Homo sapiens: one gene and its partners. The protein of the gene in region 3 purifies or fractionates together with the protein of the main gene of each other region. This does not show direct contact. Each region holds a gene or a part of one and is shown on either strand. Other genes may lie near its edges.

Region 1 (7,029 bases), on a different chromosome or scaffold from region 3:
CCAGCACTCTATCTCCAGAACAGAGGGATTAGCATTGTTGCTTTTACCCATGGTCCCACATAAACTTTTTATTTGTAGTCCCAGTAGAAAGGTGAATGTTACCATAGTTGCCATACTTGGCATTTCTTTTAGTACTGTTTTTTGCTTCTCTGTCATTTTTAAGAAAGATACATTGCCAGGTAGGTAGGAATTCAGTGAATTTGTTACAAAGCAGATTTAGTTCTTATTCTCAGCAACATTTTTAGATTTTGAAAATCTTCAATTTTAGATAGCTTTAGCCTTTATACATGTGTTTCTTATATAACGATGGTTGTGGATCGGTAGGCACTTTAAATTTTGTTCTAGGCATGTGTTTTGAGCAGCATTACATACCCAGTGTAGAAGGTGTTGTATGGAATTTCACCGAAGTGGGGAAAAATTCCAAGTAGAGGGTCAATGTGTAATGATTATTGAGTTTATATTTGTCCAAAGAATACAGATTTTAAACAAATTTTTAAAGGCCTACATAGAATTATTGGCCGTATTTGTAGCAGTTTGCTTTCTACATTGCCAGAGTTAGTAAGAACTCTATTTTCTAATTTTTATATTATGGTAAAGCCACCACTGAAAACTGACTGCCACAGATTTTTCAGACATACGTTGTTTGGCCTATATAGGTTTAGAAAACATTTGATTCAACATTGAAAAATATGGAGATTTCCACAAAACTATTCAGGCTCTTGGTTCCTCACGATAAGTGGCATGATCTGACAGTTCTGAAACTGCAGTCCTGGTTGGAACTCTGTGATAGCCACTGTCTTCAGAATGCAAGCCTCTCACAGTAGGTCCCATGCACGCACAGTAGGTCCCTCTGCCAGGCTGCCAGTACTGCTGGGGCACTGCACATTACCTGTTGTCACCCTGTGAGTTTGTATCCCTGTTGTCAAGAAAGCTGTTCATATTGTAGAAGATTTGGAAGGTGCAGGCAAGTGTGTGTGTATAAAATTACCTATAATCTGACCTTCCACTGGAAACCTCTGTTAATACTTCAACATATATTTTTCAAGTCTGTGTGTATGTATACATATATTTCTTTTCAAAACAACTTTGAGGCGTAATTGATACAGAATAAATGAAAAAAGTGTACAGTTTTATGTTTTGACATAATCACCCGTTACCATCATCATCATCAAGATAATGAATATATCCATCCTCCCAAAAGTTCCTCATACATCATGATAATCCTTTCCTCTCCCTTGATCCCTCTAACTGTGCCCCTTCACTAGGTGAGCACTGAAGTATTTTGTCATAGTTGCATTTGAATTCTGTGTATGTGTGGGCTTTTGTTTTTTTTTAGCAATTGAGATTATTTGAGATTCAGTTTTGCGGTTTCCCCTTTTTACTTAGGATAGCTTTGAAGAGTAGTGCGATCGTACTTTTTCTTATGTTTATCGTCATTTGTGTTTCTTCAATGAGTTGTCTGTTTTCTTTCCCATTATTGTACTGGTGTTTTAGTGTTTTACTTGGTTTATATGAGCTCTTCATTTGTTAATATGTTTTTCATCATATTAACAATGTTTTTCAACATATTAATATTAAAACCATGATTTTCCTCATTATAAGTATTCTCCAATTTGTATTGTTTTCCTTTATAATTTTAAGTTATTTTCTACATACAGAAGTTTTATTGTTTTTGAGTAATATTTTTACAACATTTTCCTTTGTGAGTGAGGATATACAAGTGAGTTAGGAAGTATGAATTACCTTATTCTATTTTTGATTGCCTTTCCACTCTGAAAGTTTGTATGTGGTGGAGTTTGGGGAGGGACAGTAACTACCTGTGACTATTTAGTAATGTGCATTTTCTCTAGAGCTGTTAGTTGTTAATTAACAACCATTGCTGGTAACTTGCAGAGCGTTTACCATTTTTACTGTCAAATGTCCTAGTTATGAGGATCAAAGAAACTAGTAGTTTGGGGTGGCTATGTCTGGATATCTCTTGTTGATGTTGCAGATAGGGATTTAATGTTTGAAATTGTTTTCTGTTTTCTTTTAGATCTGCTTGGCTTTGAGGAAGAGTGGCAGTACTGCCTCACTGCATAAGGGATGGGATCAGAGAACAGTGCTTTAAAGAGCTATACACTGAGAGAACCACCATTTACCTTACCCTCTGGACTTGCTGTTTATCCCGCTGTACTGCAAGATGGCAAATTTGCTTCAGTTTTTGTGTATAAGAGAGAAAATGAAGACAAGGTTAATAAAGCTGCCAAGGTACCATAATAGGTGACGACTTAATAGTTAGTACTTTTTACTATCTTGTTTTCTTTTAAAAAAATATGAAATTAGTAAAGTTCAAAGGAGGTAAGATCATAAGGACCAGTATTTTATTTATGTCCTTTCAAAACATTGCTCTTACTTCATGGGCCTATCTTCCATTTGCATGACATGGTCAGGTACCATACCTGTAGCCAAAAAACATCATAAAACTCAGTACAATGGCTTTTATCATCATATTTTATTTTTCTGGTGAGAAAGTTAGGGAGACATTTTTATGTAGCTAATATAAGATATAAGGAGCTATATAAGGAGTTAATCTCGTCTAGCAAAATGCAGTTAAGTATTGACATCATTCTGGAGGCTTCAGCTTCCTCCTTAGGGAAAAGATCCTTGTAGTTCATGCCTTATAATTGTTGCTCCAGGCAGAGGGTGCCAGTGCATTAGCATGCTGTCTGACACACTCAGGAGATCCTGGCCTCTTATCAGAAAAAATGATTTTACTGTGGAATGTAAGTCAATAAAATAACCCCAAGTGTCTTTTTGAATTAGGGAAAATGAAGGCATTAGTTGATGCTTCTTTGGATAGCTAGCACTTTGGAAATTTAGGAATTCAGATATATCATCTTCTAAAATGGAAAATGTAATTGTATTAGTAAATTAATTCTCCAGTGTTTATTCTGGTAGGCATGCTATTTTCAAGTTGAACTTGATATCTTGATTTTGTTAGAATTATAATCTCTATTACCTTGAGTCCCTTAGTTATCAACAGGTATGGAACATTGATGTCTGTTTCATAGGACTCTAAATTGTTTTTATTTTTTTAAAATGATTATAAAGGATTATATTAGTAATGGAATTTTGGTCTTCACAACAGTAATTTATTTGATGTTGTATTTTTGATCAAGCATGAAATTGTTATAAGATGGTTCCTAAAGAAAAAGATGGGTAACAGTTCTCTCGAGATGCGTGGTGGTAAAAAGTATATAGCTGGCTGTTTTCTTGCTAGGTAATTTTGCTTTTTGGTAGAACCACATTTTTGACTCTTTTTTTACATCATCTAGGTATTGTTAAGAATTTTTTATTGTGATTTTACAAAAGACAAAATGCCTTACTTCGCTTTCTTGTTCTTACAGTTAATGTCTAACATGCCTCCTGTTATTTTCATCTAATAAGATTGTGCATTTTTTTTAATAAACTATTATCGGCGAGGTACTAGAGACTTATCTTTCTTAGTATTTTTTTCTTTATAAGATTTTTTTAAAATTGTGTTACACTTTATGGTGCACGTACCAAGAAAATTGAATAACCTAGATCGAGTTTTTAAAGGAAAAAACAGCAAGACCACTCTCCATTTTTGAGGACTTCTGTGCTGAAGGAATTGCGAAGCTTGAGAGGGAAGACTTATTCCCCCTTAATATTCATAGATACCCTTTTAAGCCATGTCTGAGTCTTTGCACATAGTTCATCTTTGTCTCTTGTTAAGCCATTCTGTGGCTTTGAAAACCTCATATATGAATTTGGGAAATTTGAAATTGCAACAAAGTGATAACTTTAGATTCTCAGAATGTTTCTCATAATCTTAAAAAACTAGGTCATAGCACTTGAGAAATGTATGGCATTCGATGTGCTAGATTTTAGGAATTTGATGTCCTAGGTATCTGAAATACTAAAACAATATATTTAGCTTGCCTCACTTTCTCTAGAGTTTGGGTTGTTGGTCACACCTTTGGTAGTTTTAACGATTATTTCAAGCAGATATATAGTGTTTTCTGTTACTGGATAACAATATACACTTTCTTCACTGTTACAAGTAAAAAACAACAATCCTAGTATACACCAAGATGAAATGCAGGTATAAGCTCTGGCCACAAAATAATGTGAGAAATACTTAGTTCTATCTGACCATCTCATTTTACATTGAATTCATCAGCTATAATTAACAGTATAATTTGCTAACTGATGATGATGACTCATATATGTAAGCCTATAAACAGTGATAAATTCTAAGCCCGAATTTGGTTGCTGTAGTTTGCTGTAATCTAAGTGTTTAGTTAGGGCTTTGTGGTAAGCTTATTAAAGCTTATAAAAATGATTCTTGAGTGTCTTTATGCCAGGAATCACATTGGACTCTAAGAGTGGTATGTAGATGCTATATAAGTGCTCTATTTAGTATTGTTGGAGTCATTATGCTCTTCCCCATAATGAATTTGGGCTGTTGTGGAAGGGTTAGTCAATGTTATTTAAGAATGCACATTGTGTGGGCATAACAAGAAATGGAAGAGATGATGGCTATGCCCAAAAGAGCTTGCATTCTAATTGGAGAAAGCTGTTCTCCTCTCTCATACTGACTTTTTTTTTTGAGATGTAGTCTCACTCTGTTTCCCAGGCTAGAGTGCAGTGGTTCGATCTTGGCTCACTGCAACCTCTGCCTCCCGGGTTGAAGTGATTCTCCTGCCTCAGCATCCCACGTAGCTGGGATTACAGGCACGCGCCGACACACCCAGCTCATTTTTGAATTTTTAGTAGAGGTGGGGTTTCACCATGTTGGCCAGGATAGCCTCTACCTCTCGACCTCGTGATCCGCCTTCCTCAGCCTCTCAAAGTGCTGGGATTACAGGCATGAGCCACCGTACCTGGCCCATGGTTGACTTTTTAAGAAATTATTTTTTGCCCTTCATAATCAGAATCCAGTGCTCTTACGTGGCTTCTGGGCACTATCCACTCAGAAGAACTTCAGAAGTATCCCCCATGCCTCAGGTATGATGGACCCACCAGATGGAATGGCCAGCTACTTGCTCCCCACCACACCTTGCAGACTTCACGCTCTCCTTTTTCCTTGGATGTTAATAACCATCCAACCTGCCATTCTAAACTAATTATCTGCCAAAATCTCTAGTCTGAGCTCCAGATCTATATTTTCACTTACCTATTGAACATTTCCACCTAAAAGTTTTATCAGTACCTCAAATGCAAGCTCTACAGAATGGAATTTTTATTCCTTTCTCTTTCTGCATTTTATTGTTAGTTTATGATCTAACCTTCAGATAGTGGACATTTACAAAAAAAAAAGCATCTGCATTTTGTCTTAGATTTACATCTTCAGAGAAAAAGGAATAATATTTTTCCCTGAAGATCTTTGTTCTCTAGTTTAGGCATCTTGGTTATTTTGTTTACTTAACATATTTAACAGCGTGAAATTATGGCTTTGTCTCATCTAAAAGCCTGCAGGTGGATTTGGGCTGTAATGCTGAGTCAGTTAACTTTGCATAGTTCTCAAAGTGAAATAGCGAATCAGAGGCAGAACAACAATAAAAAGTTAAGCCTCTGAGGCTTGAATGAATTCTCTGGATAGCTGAATCATAACTGATTCCTGATAAAGGGGAATCATTTATATTTAGGGAAAGAATCTCATACTTAAGATCCCTGTTTGGGTGTAGAAAAATATCATCATTGATAAATTATATAATACTATTCATATTTAACAATAAAGGTCCTTACTCAGAACCCTCTTTCAGAGACCATCACCTAGGACAGTAAATGGGATGTAATAGGTATTCAATAACTTTGGGGAAAGTGCTTTCAAGACACTCATTCAAAAATAGTCATCTTTCTCTACTAGGGCAAGAGCCATTTATTTGCTCAACTGATGTTCATTGAAAAATATCCTAGTTACCCTTAGCAAGTATGTCTTGTTGCTATTCTTTAGAGCAGCAGAGGCTTGAATCAAAAAATGTCCTATTTGATTCTGAACTGCTAGCCTTTCCTGTGAATCTGTGTGCATAATTTATGCTTAATATTAAATGTACCAAAGGAGAGTGAGAAATAAGGTTCTTGCTAAGTTAAGTGCCTTGTTCAGAAACATGTAATGAGTCATTTCTTCTTCTCCTTCTTTATTAAACAAACAAGTACTCACTTTGCATCAAGAAAATTTCTAGGCATTGTAGAGTAAAACAATAAGCAGAAGAGAACATGAAAGATTTGGTTTGAAAATTATTTGAAATGATTCTTAAATGAAAATATGAGGGAGGCTACATAATTTTATACAGAAACCGTAGCTCAAAACACACCTGTAGGCCAGGCAAGGTGGCTCATGCCTATAAGTCCAGCACTTTGGGAGGCCGAGGTAGGTGGATCACCTGAGGTCAGGAGTTTGAGACCAGCCTGGCCAACATGGTGAAACCCCATCTCTACTAAAAACACAAAAATTAGCCAGGCATGGTGGTGGGCGCCTGTAATCCCAGCTATTCGAGAGGTTGAGGCAGACGAATCATTTGAACCTGGGAGGCGAAGGTTGCAGTGAGCTGAGAACACGCCATTGCACTCCAGCCTGGGTAACAAGAGCGACACTCTGTCTCAAAAACAAAACAAAACGAAATAAAAAAACACTTGTAAAAAATTATTCCCAGTTAACTGCACTCATTTAACCAACCTGCTAACACAATTTTTGGTTTATCTGGATCTTTGCTGTATTTATTAGTTTGTAATTGCTAGTTAAAGAAATTTTTTCTTCAATATTTTCTTAATTATTTTTTATTGAATTAACTCGAGGGTAACAACTTTCTTCCTAAGAATAAATAAATAAACCCTATTGGAGCTATTCCCAGAGTTGGCAAAATTTGAGATTATTATAAGAAAATAAAAGAAATTGGAGGCTGGGCACAGTGGCTCACACCTGTAATCCCAGCACTTTGGGAAGCCGAGGTGGGTGGATCACAAGGTCAGGAGTTCAAGACCAGCCTGGCCAACATAGTGAAACCCCATCTCTACTAAAAA
Region 2 (7,029 bases), on a different chromosome or scaffold from region 3:
AGTAGTTTTCTTCCTATCCGTTAGTCCTCCACACAGCACATGATACACAACACTCGAGGGCTTTCTCTATGGCTTTAAAAATGGATAGCAGGCTGAGTGCGGTGGCTCACGCCTGTAATCCCAGCACTTTTCGGAGGCCGAGGCAGGTGGATCACCTGAGGTCAGGAGTTCGAGACCAGCCTGACCAACATGGAGAAACCCCCTCTCTACTAAAAATGCAAAATTAGCTGGGTGTGGTGGCGCATGGCTGTAATCCCAGCTATTTAGGAGGCTGAGGCAGGAGAATCGCTTGAACCTGGGAGGTGGAGGTTGCCGTGAGCCGAGATCATGCCATTGCACTCCAGCCTGGGCAACAAGAGCGAAACTCTGTCTCCCCCATAAAAAGGATAGCAGGAAGAAAGTACCAACCTGAAAATATGATGGCAATAGGATAATACTTGGTAGATATTATAGAAAGAAGTAGAACAATTAGTAAAGGAAGTAGAACAATTCTGTTTGTTATGGTCATGGAGAAGCATGAAGTATTCAGAAGTGCAAAGCCAAAATAACTTTTACAGATGATTTTCCAAGTTATGGAACGTGTCTCTGTGTGCTTGGGTATATACACATATTGCTAAACTTGGATACAGTTTTTTAAAAATGTGTGTATTTAAGTAGCCACCTTCACTACCTACTCTGAGACAAATGGCTGTGTGGTGTATGGTCGGATGATAGTTACTAGAAACAACTTTTAAGTCATAAAAGACTAACATCCTCTGTTTTCCCAAGGAGATAATATGTACTTTTGATTGACCTTGGATTTGGTCTTCGGACCAGTACAAGTAGAATGTAGGGGATTCCCTTGCTAAGCTACTAGCTTAATAAAAAGTATTCATACAACTCCTGTTCATACAACTTTATGATTGGTCCCCAAACAACCACTTAGAGGCTAGCTGGATATCCTGCTGGCCAGTAACTCTAATAACTTGTTGGAGAAGTATGTAACTGGTGAAGAATACTTATCTAGGTTCTCTAGTAACATTTTATCTTTTATTGCAAAGATGCTCTGATTGTGGCGGCAATGCTTCTTTAATCATAGGGAGGATAATGTAGTGGGAAAAGAATGAGGAATCAAATGAGTGATTTCACTTAAGCTCTCAGAGCCTGGAGCCCTCATATAAGGTAGTGATAATCCGTAACAAGGCTGTCGTGGGAAACAGATGATAGGGTGCAAGTGTTTTGTAGTACTTTAAAGTTTGTAAAACTGTCTTAAGGCACAGTAACATATATGTAAGAATGTACCAGTGTGACTACTTGTGTTATTATGCTATTATATATAATGTGTATATTTGCAATAAAAAGTTATAATTTTTTCCTGTGGACAGAGATTTAGTTTGGGCAAGGGTGGTAGGCAAGTTTTAAATTTTAGCTGTAAAATGCTGATAATATGTTCATGATAGGGTTATTGTAAGTATCAAATGTGTTAAAAGTGCTTAACCCACTGCCAAATATTCTGTCGGAGGTGGTTATTACCATAATGGGTGGTTATTTAAGATGAGACTTTGAACTAAAAAGTAATTTTCAAAATAGGCAACTTGGAAGGTGTTTGTTCAGTTATTAACATAAGATGTGATCATTCATGCTTCTTAGCTATCTTCATTTTAATAAATGTGCATTTTAGACAATCCTGTGGCAAAGTAGTTCTTCTGGAATTGTTTATTTCAATTGCAGGATTTCATATGAGTTAATTTCATAGTTTAAGGTTATGGCAGTTTCCAAGTACAGTTGTCCCTTGGTATCCATGGGAAATTAGTTCCAGAACCTCCCTCTGATGACAGAATTCAAGGATGTTCCAGTCCCTGGAACATGGTATAGTATTTGCATATAACCTATGTGCATCCTCCCGTACACTTGAATCTCTACACTATAATACCTAATACAATGTAAATCATTGTTATACTGTATGCTTGGGGAATAATGACAAGAAAAAATTGTACATGTTCAGTACAGATGCAGTTAAATAATTTTTCTATTCCTGGTTGGTTGAATTCATGGATGTAGAACCCATAGATATGGAGGGCTGACTTGACTGTATAGTGCATTGGCTTTTCAAACAGTAAATCTGCAAAATCTAACTTGGGTCTGTTATGCACAGGATTGCCAAAAAAAAAAAAAAAAACAATTAACATGAAACCATACTAACAGTGAATCTCATAAAAACCTTATTTTTCCCTTCATTTAATCCTTTAGAATAGAGTCATGGACAGTGATTAGAACTACATCCATCTTTAACATTTTAACTTGAGTTCTGCAAACTTCCTATGATTTTTGAAATGGATTTAGAATGGAGGCTTGGATTTTAATACTAGGTCTATGATGTTTTATTTTTATGTATTTATTTATTTTGAGACAGAGCCTCCCTCTGTCACCCAGGCTGGAGTACAGTGGCGTGATCTTGGCTCACTGCAATCTCCACCTCGTGGGTTCAAGCGATTCTTGTGCCTCAGCCCCTGAGTATCTGGGACTACAGACGCGTGCCACCACGTCCAGCTAATTTTTGTATTTTTAATAGAGACAGGGTTTCACCATGTTGGCCAGGCTGGTCTCGAACTCCTGACCTCAGGTGATCCACCCACCTTGGCCTCCCAAAGTGCTGAGATTACAGACATGAGCCACCGCACCCTGCCTGGGTCTGTAATGTTTTTCTGTAACATTTTTTTTTTTCCTTCCCAGTGGTTAATATCTACCCTAGCAAACTTACAGTAATTTTTTTAAAAATTTTGTTTTGTTTCTATGTTTTTTGAAACGAGGTCTTGCCCTGTTGCCAAGGCTGGAGTGCAGTGGCGTGATCACCGCGGTTTTGACCTCCCTGGCTCAAGTAATCTTCCTGAATCAGCCTCTTCAGTAACTAAGACTACAGGAGTGTGCTACCACACCTGGCTAGTTTTTAAAATTTTTTGTGGAGATGTGGTCTCCCTGTGTTGTCCAGGTTAGTCTCAAACTTCTGGACTCAAGTGATCCTTCCATCTCTGCCTCCCAAGTGTTGGGATTACAGGCATCAGCCACCACACCCAGCCATTTCTTTCTTTCTTTTTTTTTTTTTTAATTAAAGAGATAAACCCTATAAATGCCATTTAGAAATTTGAAAGCCTTCTATAAAGAAACTCCTCAAAGGAGGAAAGTTGGCATGGTAAATGGAGAGCTTTTTAAAAATTTCAGTGAATGAATTTGTGGGATGCCAAAAGTTGGTTTAATTTCACCTTTATCAGAATGGGGGAGTTGATTTTTGCCATTTCCTAATCTTTTTTATCTTTTTGTATTTTTTTCCTTATTTTTTTCCCCCCCGAGATAGGGGCTAGCCTTGTTGCACAGGCTGGAGTGCAGTGGCTCAATCATAGCTCGCTGCAACCTTGAACTTCTGGGGTGCACCCCCCACCCCCGCCATTTCAGCTTACTATGTAGCTAGGTCTACAGGCTTGCACTACCCTGCTGGGCCAGGGGTTGATTTTTTTGTTTTGTTTTGTTTTGTTTCGTTTTGAGATCGAGTCTTGCTCTGTCACTCAGGCTGGAGTGCAGTGGCACAGTCTTGGCTCACTGCAACCTCCACCTCTGGGTTCAAGAGATTCTTCTGCCCCAGCCTCCCAAGTAGCTGGGACTACAGGCACCCGCTACCACGCCTAATTTTTGTATTTTTTAGTAGAGACGGGTCTTACCACGTTGGTCAGGCTGGTCTCAAACTTCTGACCACAAGTGATCCGCCCGCCTTGGGCTCCCAAAGTGCTGGGATTACAGGCATGAGCCACTGTGCTGGCTGGGTTGATTTTTTTTTTTTTTTTTTTTTTTTTTTTTTTTTTGGGACAGAGTCTCACTCTGTCTCCCAGGCTGGAGCGCAGTGGCGCGATCTTGGCTCACTGTAACCTCCGCCTCCCAGGTTCAAGTGATTCTCTTGCCTTAGCCTCCCGAGCAGCTGAGATTACAGGTGCCCGCCACCGTGCCCGGCTAATTTTTGTATTTTTAGTAGAGACAGACCAGGCTGGTTTCAAACTCCTGACCTCAGGTGATCCACCCACCTCGGCCCCCAAAGTGCTGGGATTACAGGTGTGAGCGACCGCCCGGTCTTGATTTTCTTTCTTTTTTTTTTTTTTTTTTTTTGACGGAGTCTCGCTGTCGCCCAGGTTGGAGTGCAGTGGCGGGATCTCGGCTCACTGCAGGCTCCGCCCCCCGGGGTTCACGCCATTCTTCTGCCTGAGCCTCCCGAGTACCTGGGACTACAGGCGCCCGCCACCTCGCCCGGCTAATTTTTTGTATTTTTTTTAGTAGAGACGGGGTTTCACCGTGTTAGCCAGGATGGTCTCAATCTCCTGACCTCGTGATCCACCTGCCTCGGCTTCCCAAAGTGCTGGGATTACTGGCGTGAGCCACCGCGCCCGGCTTTGATTTTTTTTAATGACAAATCCGAGAGGAGTTTTGACGGGAAAACACCCCTGTTCTTAGAATTTTTTCAAGATGGCTATTAATAGCATCTTCATAAATTGCTGTTTTCTTTTTATCAGCACTTTAATTTTTATTTTTTATTTATGTACTTATTTTTGAGATAGGGTCTCAAATATGCAGCCTCCACCTTCTGGGCTCAAGTGAACCTCCTGCCTTAGTCTCCTGAGTAGCTGGGACTTACAGGTGTGTGCCACCATGCCTGGCTAATTAAAAAAAAAAAATTGGCCGAGCATGGTGGCTCACGACTGTAATCCCAGCACTTTGGGAGGCTAAGGCGGGTGGATGACAAAGTCAGGAGTTCGAGACCAGCCTGACCAACATAGTGAAACCCCGTCTCTACTAAAAAAATTTATTTATTTTTTCTTTGAGACAGAGTCTTACTCTGTCGCCCAGGCTGGAGTGCAGTAGAGCAGTCTCGGCTCACTCTACCTTCTGAGTTCAACTGATTCTCGTGCCTCTGCCTCCCAAGTAGCTGGGATTACAGGCATGTGCCACCACGCCCAGCTAATTTTGTATTTTTAGTAGAGATGGGGGTTTCACTATGTTGGTCAGGCTGGTCTTGAACTCCTGACCTCAGGTGATCCACCCACCTTGGCCTCCCAAAGTGCTGGGATTACAGGTGTGAGGCACTGCACCTGGCCTGACATGTACATTTTCAAGAAAAAGCTAGATCCATTCAGAAAGGTTTTACCCATTTATTCATCAGGGTTAGGTTTGTGCTTGTTTGCAAGTATCTTTGTTCACAGTGGGTGTTAATTAAAAATAAATGCCAACATATAGGTAAAAATGGGCATATTACAGTTTAATTTGCAATTTTTTGATTGTAGTTGATGTTGGAATAGTGATATGGAAATTGAAAATGTGAATTAGTTTATTTACTTTTTTAGAGATGAGGTATCACTATGTTGCCCAGGCTAGTCTCGAACTCCTGGGGTTAAGCGATCCTCCAACCTCCACCTCTCAGTGCTGGGATTACAGGCGTTAGTTACTGTGCCCAGCTCTGACTTCTTTTTATTAATTGCTTTTTAATATTTTTTGAGCATTTCCCAGTATTTCTTTTATTGTTTTGTAAAAGCCTGTTTGCATGCAGGAAATTATTTTTCATATTTGCTTTTTAATTTTGTATTTTTTTGGTGAGAATTGTGTGTGTTGGTTTCTTTCATGTTTTTCTTAAATAAATTGGCAATTTTTTTGAACTTATTAGTGGTAGTCTTAGTCTTTAGGCATGCTATTGGAGTGCTTTTAAAAAGTTGTTATGGCTGGGTGCAGTGGCTCATGCCTGTAATCCCAGCACTTTGGGAGGCCAAGGCGGGCGGATCACCTGAGGTGGGGAGTTCGAGACCAGCCTGACCAACATGGAGAAACCCCGCCTCTACTAAAAATACAAAATTAGCCGGGCGTGGTGGCACATGCCTGTAATCCCAGCTACTAGGGAGGCTGAGGCAGGAGAATCGCTTGAACCTGGGAGGTGGAGGTTGAGGTGAACTGAGATTGCACCATTGCGCTCCAGCCTGGGCAACAAGAGTGAAACTCCGTCTCAAATTAAAAAAAAAAAAAAAAAGTCCTTATTTTAGAGTCCAGGTGCGGTGGCTTACGCCTGTAATGCCAGCACTTTGGGAGGCTGAGGTGGGTGGATCATGAGGTCAGGAGATAGAGGCCATCCTGGCTAACACAGTGAAACCCCATCTCTACTAAAAATACAAAAAATTAGCCGGGCGTGGTGGCAGGCGCCTGTAGTCCCAGCTGTTGGGGAGCCTGAGGCAGGAGAATGGTGTGAACCCGGAAGGTGGAGCTTGCAGTGAGCCGAGATTGCGCCACTGCACTCCAGACTGGGAGAGAGAGCGAGACTCCTCAAAAAAAAAAAAAAGTTGTTTTAGGCCGGGCGTGGTGGTTTACGTTTGTAATCCCAGCACTTTAGGAGGCCAAGGTGGGAGGATCACCTGAGGTCAGAAGTTCGAGACCAGCCCGGACAACATGGTGAAACCCCATCTCTACTAAAAATACAAAAATTAGCTGGGCATGGTGGCAAGCGCCTGTAATCCCAGCTACTCCAGAGGCTGAGGCTGGAGAATCACTTGAACCCTGGAGGCGGAGGTGGCAGTGAGCCGAGATCGCGCCATTGCACTCCAGCCTGGGTGAAAAGAGTGAAACTCCGTCTCAAAAAAAAAAAAAAAGTTGTTTTAAATGGGCGGTTTTTTTTTTTTTTTTTTTTTTGAGATGGATTCTTGCTCTGTTCCCCGGGCTGGAGTGCAGTGGCTCACTGCAAGCTCCGCCTTCCGGGTTCATGGTATTCTCCTGCCTCAGCCTCTGTAGTAACTGGGACTACAGGCGCCCGCCACCATGCCCGGCTAATTTTTTTTTGTATTTTTAATAGAGACGGGGTTTCACCGTGTTAGCCAGGATGTTCTCGATCTCCTGACCTCGTGATCTGCCCGCCTTGGCCTCCCAAAGTGCTGAGATTATAGGCATGAGCCACCGCGCCCGGCCTTAAATTGTTAATCATATATTGATTGTTTATTCGTATCTCTTTTTATTGTCGGAGAGTGGGCATCTGTT
Region 3 (7,029 bases):
AAAATCTGTCCAGTGGGGGCATGAAAAGAAATTAAAAATAAAGAATAGGAAGGTTGCTCACTGAATTGTAAACTTTATATAAATGGGTGAATTTTATGGCATGTGAATTATATCTCAACAAAGCTTTTTGTTTTTTAGCTAAACATCAACATACAGTGAAAGTTAAAAAAAAAATCACTTAAGGCAAGGCACAGTGGCTCTGTAATCCCAGCACTTTCAGAGACTGAGGCAGGAGGATAGCTTGAGCCCAGGAGTTCGTGACCAGCCTGGACAACATAGCAAGACCCCGTCTCAATTAAAAAAATACTTAAAAAATTATAGGGGTTAAGAACCATGGCCGAGCACGGTGGCTCACGCCTGTAATCCCAGCACTTTTGGGAGGCCGAGGCGGGCAGATGATGAGGTCAAGAGATCGAGACAATCCTGGCCTACATGGTGAAATCCCATCTCTACTAAAAATACAAAAATTAGCTGGGCATGATGGCACACACCTGTAGTCCCACCTACTCGGGAGGCTGAGGCAGGAGAATCGCTTGAACCCGGGAGGCGGAGGTTGCAGTGAGCTGAGATTGCGCCACTGCATTCCAGCCTGGTGACAGAGCGAGATTCCATCTCAAAAAAAAAAACAAAACAAAAAACAAAGAACTGTTCAACTAGATGACATGTAAGGTCCTGCCTACAATATTATGAAAAACAGCTTGTGCAGCAAGAACACTGAGTGCACAAATCCCCACTGGAGGCTCAGGTCCCTTTGCTGGGACATTTATTCAAGGGTAAGCTAAGTTTCCAAGTTCAGCCCTGGCTCAGACCTACCTGCCCGGACCTCCTCATGCTCCAAGACCACTCGGTTATAGATGAAGCGGATGTACTTTGAGGGATTGGTGGTCTTGGGCCCCTCCTGGCCCAGGAGATGTAGAATACGGGTGGCCAGCACTGTGAACTCGCAGTCCTCGATGAACTCGCACAGATGTGACAGCCCTGTCTCCTTGCTCTCTGAGTTCTCTTCAATGATGCTGATGATGCAGTCCACGATAGCGCGCTTATACTCAAAGCCACCCTGCAGAGAGAAGCTGAGCTAAGCAAGGAGCCTGCTCTCTCCAGAAAAGAGTTGAAGACCTGAGCTGGACCAAGGACAGTTGTCCAAACACAGAACTTGGAGACAGGGCACTTGGTTCTCTGGGCCTCTATCACTCTTTCCTGTCAAACAAAAGGCTGGTCAGGTGCAGTGGCTCACACCTATAATCCCAGCACTTTGAGAGGCTGAGGTGGGTGGACCACTTGAGCTCAGGAATTCGAAATCAGCCTGGGCATCATGGAGAGACCCCATCACTACAAAAAATAGAAAAATTAGTTGGGCATGGTGGTGCATGCCTATAATTCCAGCTGCTTGGGGGTCTGAGGTGAGACGATTGCTTGATCCCAGGAGGTTGAGGCTGCAGTGAGCCGTGATCACACCACCACACTCCAGCCTGGGTGACAGATGGAGGCCGGGCGCAGTGGCTCACGTCTGTAATCCCAGCACTTTGGGAGGCCAAGGTGGGTGGATCACCTGAGGTCAAGAGTTTGAGACCAGCCTGACCAACATGGTAAAACCCTGTCTCTACTAAATATAAAAAATTAGCCGGGCGTGGTGGGGGGCACCTGTAGTCCTAGGTACTCGGGAGGCTGAGGCAGGAGAATCACTTGAACCCAGGAGGTGGAGGTTGCAGTGAGCCAAGACCTCACCACTGCACTCCAGCCTGGGCAGCAGAACGAGACTCCTACTCAACAGAAAAAAAAAAAAACTGCTATCATGCATACAGTGTCTCCAAAGTGCTAGGCCTGGCCAGGCATGATGGCTCACACCTGTAATCCCAGAACTTGGGTGGCTAAGGTGGGAAGATCACTTATAGCCAGGAGTTTGAGACCAGCCTGGGCAACCCAGCAAGACCCCATCTCTACTTAAAAAAAACAAACACAATCACCAAAGTGCTGGGCCCATTAGCTGACAACTCACTAAACATTAGTGCCCTTCTACAACAACATTCTTGGGAAACGCAAAGACACTCAAGGCAATGGCTCCTCTACTGCCTAGTCCATGGGCCACTCTGGGGCTGGGTGAAAGGGGTACCATGTATCTGAGGAACAAATCTACTCCATGAACATCTGCTATTGCTCCTAAGAATTAACCCATTTTGTTGAGACGTCCAAGAAAGGTGGCATAAGTGAATCAGTAATTCACGTCGGGAACAGAAATAGAACCAATGTCGTATTATTAGCACCGGTTTCACAAGAAACCACTCCTAGAGCTCCTGGAATGGTCTAGAATATTTCTGCACTAGAGTCCACCAGAAAAGAACATGCATTTTCCCATCTTCTGCACAAGCATCACCTCAGGACATCCAGTTTTTAAAGTCAGGCTGGTGAGTCATAGTTATTACTGTAATTACTAGCAATTGGTACGTGTTTACATGTCCACAAGGAGTTTAAAGGGTTGCAGGCACCATGAAAACCAGTTGGTTAACAGGCTAACATAAGCACACGCACAAAGCTGAGCATGGAGCCAGTGGTCAGGTCACTCCCTGCACCAGGAGACCTGGCATCCCCCGAATGCCCCTGACTCTTACCTCTTCCCGCAGCATGGTGAACAGGAAGTTCATAAGGACGGCGTGTTTGCGAGGATATTTCTGACACAGGGCACTGATGGCCTGGACAACCACCACCTAAATGAAATAGACGTGCATGAGCAGCAGGCCCTGCCACCAAGATGGGGTGACTCAGTTCCCTGAGTGCCCACTGAGTCCTTCCTTAGGTAAGGCCAGGCCTTGGGCATGACACAAGGGCAAGGAGACCAGAGGAACTCAACTCCACGCTTGAAGCTTGAAGGGCACAATCCCTGAGCCCACCCAAGGCAGTGCCAACAGCCCCAGTGTCAGACTCTCAGACTCTGGGTTCCCCAAACTCTGCTCTTCTACTCAGGCTTCTTAAGTCTCCGAGTCCCCTCCACCCAACCTGTCCTGCTTCTCTCCCTACCACTGGCTCCCACTGATGGTTCCCACCCATCATCTCCTCTGGCTCCTTTTTGGTTAAGCCTGTCTCTGGGGTATTCTGTCCTTGGCCGCTTCTCTTCTCACAGTCTCTTCAGCAATCTTATCCCCTCCCATGGCTTTAACCGCCTCTTATATGCCACTGACTCCCAATATTTATCTCCTGTCTGAGCTTAAGACCTGCCTTTTCCAACTGCCTGTCAGACAACTCCACCTGGCGCCCACAGCACTTCAAACTCCACATGTCTGCAACCACAAACATCTCCATCTCCTTCCCCCTCCCTCATCCAATACCCCATCTTTTCCTCCCCTGCAAACTAGTCAAGAGCACCACTGTCAGCTCAAAGTAGAAAATGGCATCATCTCTGTTGACATCCACCCCTCAACCCTCACACCAACCCTGCCAACAGGCATTATCCCTCAAAAAGCTCTTGCACTGTCCCACCTCTCCTACTCCCGCCGGTTCAGGCACCATCCTCTCCTTCTGAATTACTCCAACAGTCTCTTTACCCAGTCACCCCTCCACTCTGCTCCAGAAGGACTCTTTTTTTTTTTTTTTTTTTTTGAGACGGAGTCTCGCTCTGTCTGGAGTGCAGTGGCACGATCTCGGCTTACTGCAACCTCCACCTCCAGGCCAGGTCAAGCGACTCTCCTACCTCAGCCTCCGGAGTGGCTGGGACTACAGGTGTGAGCCACTACACCAGCTAATTTTTTAATTTTTTTAGTAGAGACAGGGTTTCACCATGTTGGCCAGGCTGATCTCAAACTGCTGATCTCAAGTGATCTGCCGACCTCAGCCTCCCAAGTGCTGTGATTACAGGCATAAGCCACCGCGCCCAGCCAATTTTTTTTTTTTTCAGACAAGGTCTCACTCTGTCACCCAGGCTGGAGTGCAGTGGCATGATCATGGCTCACTGCAGCCTCGAACTCCTGGGTTCAAGTGATCCTCACACCTCAGCCTCCAGAGTAGCTGGGACTACAGGTGCGCATCACCACACATGGCTAATTTTTAAAAAAATTTTCTGTAGGCCGAGTGCGGTGGCTCACGTCTGTAATCCCAGCACTTTGGGAGGCCAAGGCGGGTTGATCATGAGGTCAGGAGATCGAGACCATCCTGGCTAACATGGTGAAACACCGTCTCTACTAAAAAATACAAAAAATTAGCTGGGCATGGTGGCGGGTGCCTCTAGTCTCAGCTACTCAGGAGGCTGAGGCAGAAGAATGGCGTGAACCCAGGAGGCGGAGCTTGCAGTGAGCTGAGGTCACACCACTGCACTCCAGCCTGAGCAACAGAGCGAGACTCCAACTCAAAAAAAAAAAAAAAAATTTGTAGAGATGAGGTCTTGCTACATTGCCCAGACTGGTCTCAAAATTCAGGCCTCAAGTGATCCTCCCTCCTTGGCCTCCCAAAGCACTGAGACTACAAGCATGAGCCACCGTGCCCAGACCCAGAAGGATCTAATATGCAAATCTCACTGTGTCATTTCAGCCTGCAAAGCATTCTTGTAACCCACAGGCAGAGTAGACTGCTGCCTACTTTGCATAATCCACACTATAGAATTTACCACAATATATTATTCATATTATTGTTTGCTCTGATTAAAACTCTCCGGTGACATACTTCATTGTTCTATCAATTAACAATTGTGAAATAACAGAATTACAGAAATTGAGAACAAATTAATGGCTGCCAGGGGTTAGGGAATAGAGAGGTAGGAATGGGCCTGACTATGAAGAGGTAACAAGAGTCTTGTGGAGATGGATAGTTGAGTGTCTTCACTGTGGTGGCAATTTTGAAAGTCTCCACATGACATCTTGCATAGAACTTCACATATATACACACAGGAGTTGCCTGTGTAGCTGGTGAAATCTGAATGAGCTCTATGGGTCATGCCAGTGTCACTTTCCTGGTTGACATTGTCCTGTGCTAGTGTAGGATGCTGGCACTGTAGGAGAGGGTTGATGGAGGGGTGCATAGGACTTCTCAGTATATTTCTTTGTAACTTCCTATGAATTATTTCAAAATATAAGCTCAAAAAATATTCACATCCTTCCTCCTGCCCCAAAAGAACACCTTTCCAATGTCTTCCTTGCAATTAAAACTCTTTACCTGACCATGGGCCTTACATGATTGAGCCCTGTCTATTCTGACTTTGTCACCTGCACTGGCCCCACAGCTCTTCCACCCACTGGCCTTCTCTCTCCTTGACTTGCTCCTGCCTTTCCTCCTGGTTCTTTGCACTGATTCAGGTTTGAGCTCAAATGTCACCCTCCAGAAGGGCCTTCCCAGACTGTGCTCTTCCTAGGATCATCCCTGCTGTATTTCTACACTCTTGACTGCAGTACCCATGCCTGAGATGATCTCGTCTACTCCTTTCTTTACCTGTTTACTGTTCCTCTCCCATCCCTAGAAAGGAAGCTCCAGGAGGGCAGTCACCTGCTTTGTTCACTGCTATGTTCCCCTTTTGTCACTCTACATAGCAGACAGCAAGTGCTCAAGAAATACTTGGACAACAAATCAATGAACCCTTAACTGGCCTGGAAACTACTGTTCTTTCAGTACAAGGGGACGATATGGATGGAGGCCTGGAGGCAGGACTACGCACATTTCTCGGAAGGCCAAGTCTCTGCAGAGCAAACTGCTGGCCTCCTCTGAGTCCTCAAGGCTGACCAGCCCCTCAGGTCAGTCCTGGCAGGAAGGCTGTGGCCACAGAGAGCAGGGACAGAGCTCCTTCCTCTGGGGGCCGTGGGTGTCCTGGGGGTAGCAGGTACCTTGAATTCATCCGAGATTTCTGACATGAAGGAGGAGATCTGCTTCATGAGGCGGTCGATGCTGCTCTCGCTGCCCGTCTTAAGGAGGGTGGTGATGGCCAGCGTGGCAATGCTGCGGTTTGAATCTGTGACCAGGTTCTCCAGATCCAGATTACAAGCTGTCACAGCTGACGGATGCTTCATGGCAACCTGTTTTGGGAGGACAGTGACAGAGAGGGCAGGAACCCAATGCTGTCACTACATTTGATGGTTTGGCCCAGTCAGAAGTCCTTTGGATGAGATCATCTCACCATCTAGAAGAAACTAACTGTGACCAGGGCTATTATCCTTCCCAGCCAGGTCAGAGGCTAGGACACACCTCCAGTTGGATCAGACAGCTTCCTCCAACCCCCAAGCTGGACTCTTACCTTATTGAGGGTACGAACAGCAGCATAGCGGAGAGCAGCCTTGGGTGAGCTGCAGAAAAGCTGGAGCACTGTGGGGAGATGGATGCCACATGTCAGGTTGCCTTCACTGCTGGGCAGCTGGGAAAACCGGGGGCTACTGTTCTGACTCAAACCCTCTGCTCAGCTCATTTCCCTGCTGACACCCCCATCCCAACCCAAGACACAGAGCTCCCCTCACCCTGCGCACCTGAGCCATGGACAGAGGCCATAATGTCTGTGAGCACCCAGGGGTTCCAGTGAGGGCTGTTATTCACTGGGCATCTGCTGTGTGCCAGGTGCTGTGCTATACAGTGGACATGCCTCACTTCTATAGCTTGCAGCCACCACTAGCCCACTTTACAGATAAGGAGACTGAGGCACAAAGGGGAAAGCAAACAAACTTTAGGTTGGCAGCCAGTAAGTGGCAGAACCAAGATTAAATTCCAAGACTGCCTGCACCTGCAGCCTAAGCCCTTAACCTCTGTGAAGTAATATTCCACTCCTCTCTCCTACTGTGTCTACAGGATCCAACAGAACTTCCCCCTTGGCACCAAGTGCTGAAGAACAAAGTCCTCTCTTAAACAAATGGTTTATTTCCTTTAACTAGATGAGAGCCATTCGGGTACCATATCCCTCCCTTGCCCTGGCTGCCCGGAAGCTCAGAGCTAAATTTGGCACTCAATCATAGGAGCGAAGATGACTACTGTTTTCTGGAATATCTATGTTCCTTTCTTCATAACTTGGCTTTTATTCTCTAATACTCAAAAAAAATTTTTCTTAATGCTTATTTTGAAGACCCTACTTTA
Region 4 (6,350 bases), on a different chromosome or scaffold from region 3:
CTGGCAGTTTTTTGTAAGACTCTGTGGTATTGTTGGAGGAATCTTTTCAACAACAGGTTAACAACCATTTCCTTTTTGTCTAATTTCTGAAAGTGTTGCTTATACTTAAGTTGCTTCTTCTCAAAGGGGCAAGAAGTATACAGATTTTCATGTTTCGGTGTTTAAATAGCTTTTGCTTTAATTACAAAACTCCAAAATTATATTGACTAACCAGTAAACATAACTAATTTCATTGTATTCAATGATGTAAGGTAGATTATATAATGGTGAGTTGGAAAGATCCTGGGTGTTAACATCAGATTGAAGTAGAATTGAATGTAAGTTCTGTCATTTACTTGGTGGTAGCTTGGAATAGATCACCTACCTTTTCTGAGGTTTTCTAATCAGTAAAAATAGCAATAATAATACCTAATTTGCAAGTGTGCTATAGGATTAAATATGAAAATGCCTAGAAGGCATTTAAGACATTTTTAACTGTACAGTATGTAAAATCATATGTTATAGTACTTTGAATTATGCAATACATGAAACTAGATTTGTAATCAGTAACATGTTTATGATTTTTGTCCTGAGATCCTGGAATTCGCTAAGATTATTTGTCGAATTGTAATGATGAAAATTGGGAGTTAAGTACAATAGAGAAAAAGGAAACAATTCTATTTTCATCTTCAGTCCTTATTCAGTATTAGATGGAGCTGGGTAGTTTATTATACTTAGAATCATATTTTTAAATGAATGAATAGCTTTTCTTTCGAAATTCTTTGTTAGTGCTTCATTTCAATCTATTTAAATTTGTGTTGTTGACATCATTTATTTTCCAAAATTGTATTGGTGTGGGAAAACCTTGAAAAGATTGTGTTTAGGCCCGGTGCAGTGGCTCATGCCTATAATCCCAACACTTTGGGAGGCCAAGGCTGGCGGATCAACTTGAGGCCAGAAGTTCCAGATCAGCCTGGCCAACATGGCTAAACCCCGTCTCTACTGAAAATATAAAAAATTAGCCGGGCATGGTGGTACATGCCTGTAATCCCAGCTAATTGGGAGGCTGAAGCACAAGAATTGCTTGAGCTGGGAGGTGGAGGTTGCAGTGAGCCAAGATTGCACCACTGCACTCCAGCCTGGGCAACAGAGTGAGACGTCTCAAAAAAAAAAAGATTGTGCTGAGATCGTGAATTATGTGGCCTTGTGACTTTGAAAAGAAATCCATTTGTTTTAAAATCTTTCTTGATTATTTTTAACCATGGAAGTGAATAATGCAAACTGCTTTGTTTTCTTCCGTAATCTATTCCATTATAGTTATTTATTCTTAAATAACAGTTTAGGAAATAATTAAAAGCATAAACTTATTGTTTATTACAGGCATGTTACATGGAATTGGAAAATTTATAGTTGAAATAATTTGCTGTCGTTTCAGACTTGGATCCTATAAACCTGTCAATTCTGTAAGTGGTGTAGTATACATGGTGCTGATCTCTAAATCTTAGAATCATTGTTAAGTCTATGAGCCAGTCATGGTGGCTCACACCTGTAATCCCAAGACTTTGGGAGGCTAAGGCGGGAGGATCGCTTGAGCCCAGGAGTTTGAGACCAGTCAAGGCAACATAGTGAGAGCCCCATTTCTACAAAAGATAGAAAAAATTAGCTAGGCAAGGTGGTGCAAGCCTGTAGTCCCAGCTACTTGGGAGGGCACAGTGGGAGGATCACTTGAGCCCAGGAAGTTGAGGTTGTAGTGAGCTATGATCGTACGTACCACTGCACTCCAGCCTGGGTGACAGAGCAGACCCTGCCTCAAAAAAGATAGAGATAGAGAGATAGAGAAATAGGGGGAGAGAGAGAGAGAAATAGTAGCTTTTGGTTACTAGAAAGGATTGCCCAAAATAAAACCTTGTGTTTAGAGGAAAGAGTATAAGGAATAAAACTAATTCTTTGGTCTTTTTTTCCCTCCTTTTCTCCTTAGGTTCCTTTTGAGGATGGCCACACAGACAACCACTTACCTCTTTTAGAAAATAATACACATTAACACCTCCCGATTGAAGGAGAAAAACTTTTTGCCTGAGACATAAAACCTTTTTTTAATAATAAAATATTGTGCAATATATTCAAAGAAAAGAAAACACAAATAAGCAGAAAACATACTTATTTTAAAAAAGAAAAAAAAGGATAAAAAAACCCAAACTGAAATTCTATATACGTTGTGTCTGTTACAAATGTCGTAGAAGAAATCATGCAGCTAAACGATGAAGAAGCCCAACTGGAGTGTTGCTTTGAAGATGACGCCTTCTTATATTTTCATAGCAAATGGGTGGTATCAAAATCAGACATTGCTTCTTGCTGATAAAAAGCCTGAAGGAAATAAGTGAAACTACATCTATGGGAAAAAAAAAAACATTGAGAAGTGCAAATGTTCGCATCCTTTTGTTTTTAAAAGATATGATGTCAGAATAAAATGTGGAAAACATACGGAAAACTAGTCTAGACTTTAAAGAATTGTGATCAGGTCACATTGTTAATAAAAAAAAAAAACGGGCTAGTCCCTATGTTATAGCCATATTAATGTTAAGCCATATTGACAAGACCAGTTATCCAATAATTTGGTCTTAAAAAGTAACTACTTTTCTTTGAACTCTGGTTATTGACTTATCTAACTGTTGAAGATAGAGTCTTAGAAGACTAAGGTAAATTCTCACAGGGGCAGATATGTAGGTGTTATGTAACTAGGGTGTCATTCACAAATGGTATAGTAGAATCTTATACACGGAAAAGAAAGCACATTTTTTTAAAAAAGATGCCAAGTTTTTTAATCTAATCATTATATTATTGGTGTATTTTGGGCAACATAGGGTGAGTTATAAAAAGATCCGCTACTGATAGTGAAAATTACCGGTTTGTAAAACATTAAGAGAAAAAATAGGATATTTTATACATGTGGTGAGTGGAGAACAGGGTAACTTTAAATGAAAGTGTAAGGCAAATTGTAAGCACCACAAGATATATCAGATTTGAGAGGTGCCATGTTAAACATTGTCCATTAAACTATAAAACTGTATTATGAAGTATTTGCATTCAGGGTGTCCTGAATATGATTGATTCTGTATTAGATTGTGTTCTAACTTTCTTACTATTTAAGGATTGGTTCTAAATCTTCACATTATAAAAGATTAAAAACAGTGAGAGGGAGCTATCACACAGGTACTATTAAAAGCTGTATTTGGAATATGTGTACCAATATCAGTTTTCCTTTTGTAGTACTGAATGGCAGTAGAAGAATCAGCAGCCAATCCTCAAAGTTTAAATCATTTAAGGAAATGGGGAAACAAAATTCCAGGTAAATAACAAGACTGAAAAACTAGATTTAAAATAGTGGTTTTAGAAAACAGGATATCACAAGTAACAGTTTTTCAAATGGATTTTTTTAAAGATAAATTTATGAAAACAGGATAAACAATATAATGGAGAGAAGGAGAAATAGTGATGGGTCTGTTTTGCAGTAAAGTTTATGCAGAATGACGTTTTGCAGAAAATAACAGAAGCATCACTTTAAAAAATATATCATTAAGAGCCATGACGTTAACTGATGAAAATAAGTGATATAACATACTTTGAAAGATTTTTAAACAGAAAATTCTGAATCGTGAATGAGCCTTCTCTAGGTTTTAATTTTTTTTCTTCAAATTATTTCCAACAAAGTTTGGCTATAAACTAACACCATCTATCCACAGGAATTTTAATAGGAAAGGATTAGAATTGTAGACTGATTGTTGGTCCTTTAAGTATGCTTGGAAGAAAATTCAATCGAGTTTCAAGGCTTTTTCTAAATGGGAGGGAGAACAATATTGATTTAGGATTATTTTCTTTCATTTAGGATTAGAACAGTTAAGTGCCTTTAAAAAGGACTTTAAAAATTATTTTGATACTTATATATGATTTTTAATTGTTTTCGTATTTTCCAAATACCATATTAAAATTTTAATGAAATTTATCTCCTATGAAAGGAATTTCTTTAAAGCAAAATTCTGCTTTGCCTTTGATTTCCATTTTAAAAGTTAAAGGCTTCCATCTGAAACTCCTCAAATAGAGTCAGATTTTTGGCAATGGAAGTATTAAAATTCCGATCAGCCCTTTGGACGATGAAGTTTACCTGCATATTAGGATTTGTTAGGAGTTTTTGGCCTCACCAAGTGATTCTTTTCTATTGCAGAGAGCACTTTACTCACCTACCTGTTATGCAACTTTCCCTATGCCTGGAGGTGCCTCCAGCCAGGATACCCTACTTTGTTACCCAATTCTCCTTTTTGTTTTACAAGAGTATTCATAATATCTATATGTTTATATTCCAGACTACATATTTAAAAATGAGATCTCAAATTATATGAAATGGATTTTTAAATACTGTGTTTGCATACATTGACCTATAAAGAAGATTAAATATTTAGGTGAATAATTCCCTGCTGCAGTATTTGTACACTTCAGACTACCTCTTAGGAAAAGCTTAACTTAGTATTGCAAAATTCCCTTTCTCTTTTTTTTTTTAAGAGATGGGGTCTCGCACTGTTGCCCAGGCTGAAGTGCAGTGGCATGATTGTAACTCACTGCATCCTCGAACTCCTGGGTTCAAGCAATCCTCCTGCTTCCATCTGCTGAGTAGGTAGGACTACAGCCATGCACCAACAAACCTGGCTAATTCTTTTTCATTTATATAGTTAGTATCTTGCTGTGTTGTTCAAGCTGGACTCCAACTCCCGGACTCAAGTAATCCTCCCACCTTAGTCTCCTGCATTGCTGGAATTATAGGCACGAGCCACTGCACCTGGCACCCAAATTACTTCTAGTTCTCAAGTTAGATGATTAATATCACACTTTTCTCATGTATGTTTTATGATAGCATTGAATTTTTATAATTAAAAATTTACTAATGCAAACAAGATTTACAGTCTTTAATACAATCTTAATTTTGGAATTCATGAAGGAATGACTAAGTTCTAATTTTTTTTTTTTTTTTTTTGAAACTGAGTCTCGCTCTGTCGCCTAGGCTGGAGTGCAGTGGTGCAATCTCAGCTCACTGCAACCTCCGTCTCCCGGGTTCAAGTGATTCTCCTGCCTCAGCCTGTTGAGTAGCTGGGACTACAGGTGCGTACCACCAAGCCCAGCTAATTTTTTTATATTTTTAGTAGAGACGGGGTTTCACTGTGTTAGCCAGGATGGTCTCAATCTCCTGACCTCATGATCCGCCCACCTTGGCCTCCCAAAGTGTTGGGATTACAGGCATGAGCCACTGCCCCTGGACAGATCTAATTTTTTAATAGTGTAAGAGAGATACACTGTGCATTCCATCTATGTCCTGAGTTAGTAATTCAAGTACCAAAAAGTAATTTAATATGAAACTCCTTGAAAATTCAGAGCTTACACTTGAATTCAAAATGCCTATTTTTGATTGTTTAAAAGTTACTTAAACCTGAGCTTTAGGACCTTTAAAATCTCAGCATGCCTTTTAAGCTAGTACTTTTCCTGTTTTGAGCTCTAGCAAACCTTCAGCAAGCCAAGGTGGTAGCCCTTTTTCAACACAATCAAAATAGAGAGGTCACCAGTTGTTTACTACCTTATGGTAAAATGCCCGGATCAAGATCCATGTATCCCCCCCATATTGTGATGATGCAATCAAAGCATAGTTTTTTTCTACTTTCTGAAATATTACTGATGAAATCACTTTACATTTAAGAGGAGAAAACAGACTGCCTTGGATTTTTTTTTTGTCTTGAGAGAAAAAACAAAATATTTAGTATTGCAAGCATAAACATTTGGACTCAATAAATGACAAATTATGAAACTTTTTTTGTCTTTTTAATACTAGGAGAAAATTAAAATCATGTACCCCCAAATAAGCCTCAGTTCCCATATTTAAACTTTTTTCTCATAGGAAAGCTACAGGAATTTTAAGATATCACATGGTTACATTTGCTTTTCTTCCAGATGGAGCTAAATTGCTATATGATACAGGGTTTATTTTATATTTCTCATATTAAAGATGAAAAAGTGAAAATTGAGTAGTTGACTCAAAATTATATGTATATATATATATATGTTAACAGTTGAATACAAACAAGATTACAAGCAGTGAAACATTCAAATAGTTTTGGCAACTCCAAATATTTTGTGTTTCACAAAAGGAGTTAGGTTAACTTTTCCAAATATAACTCATTTTATACTATTTTAATAAGGAGAAACTTAAGGATGAGAAGGCATGAGGAAAAGTATACATTAGTGAAAGCTATATACTAAAGCAGACCTTCAACAACAGCTCATAACTAATAAATGCTTTGTATTTTGTTTTCAAGCAGTTATGTAAATCAATT

What was found.
Region 1: the proteins of COPG1 (region 3) and SCYL3 purify together in Homo sapiens (affinity purification with mass spectrometry; 2 studies listed by BioGRID and IntAct, with this or other methods). This does not show direct contact.
Region 2: the proteins of COPG1 (region 3) and ATL2 purify together in Homo sapiens (affinity purification with mass spectrometry; 3 studies listed by BioGRID and IntAct, with this or other methods). This does not show direct contact.
Region 4: the proteins of COPG1 (region 3) and ERGIC2 purify together in Homo sapiens (affinity purification with mass spectrometry; 2 studies listed by BioGRID and IntAct, with this or other methods). This does not show direct contact.

What each region holds. Positions count from the first base shown.
Region 1 is NC_000001.11:169,883,897-169,890,925, reverse strand, and holds part of SCYL3 (protein-associating with the carboxyl-terminal domain of ezrin), read left to right. Parts: intron 1-2,035; 5' UTR 2,036-2,085; coding exon 2,086-2,250; exon of another isoform or gene 2,251-2,276; intron 2,277-7,029. UniProt on the Homo sapiens protein: May play a role in regulating cell adhesion/migration complexes in migrating cells.
Region 2 is NC_000002.12:38,367,253-38,374,281, reverse strand, and holds part of ATL2 (atlastin-2), read left to right. Parts: intron 1-7,029. UniProt on the Homo sapiens protein: Atlastin-2 (ATL2) is a membrane-anchored GTPase that mediates the GTP-dependent fusion of endoplasmic reticulum (ER) membranes, maintaining the continuous ER network. It facilitates the formation of three-way junctions where ER tubules intersect.
Region 3 is NC_000003.12:129,259,577-129,266,605, reverse strand, and holds part of COPG1 (coatomer subunit gamma-1), read right to left. Parts: intron 6,274-7,029; coding exon 6,206-6,273; intron 5,988-6,205; coding exon 5,799-5,987; intron 2,703-5,798; coding exon 2,607-2,702; intron 1,058-2,606; coding exon 814-1,057; intron 1-813. UniProt on the Homo sapiens protein: The coatomer is a cytosolic protein complex that binds to dilysine motifs and reversibly associates with Golgi non-clathrin-coated vesicles, which further mediate biosynthetic protein transport from the ER, via the Golgi up to the trans Golgi network.
Region 4 is NC_000012.12:29,336,826-29,343,175, reverse strand, and holds the end of ERGIC2 (endoplasmic reticulum-Golgi intermediate compartment protein 2), read left to right. Parts: coding exon 1-56; intron 57-1,359; coding exon 1,360-1,442; intron 1,443-1,957; coding exon 1,958-2,020; 3' UTR 2,021-5,824; downstream 5,825-6,350. UniProt on the Homo sapiens protein: Possible role in transport between endoplasmic reticulum and Golgi.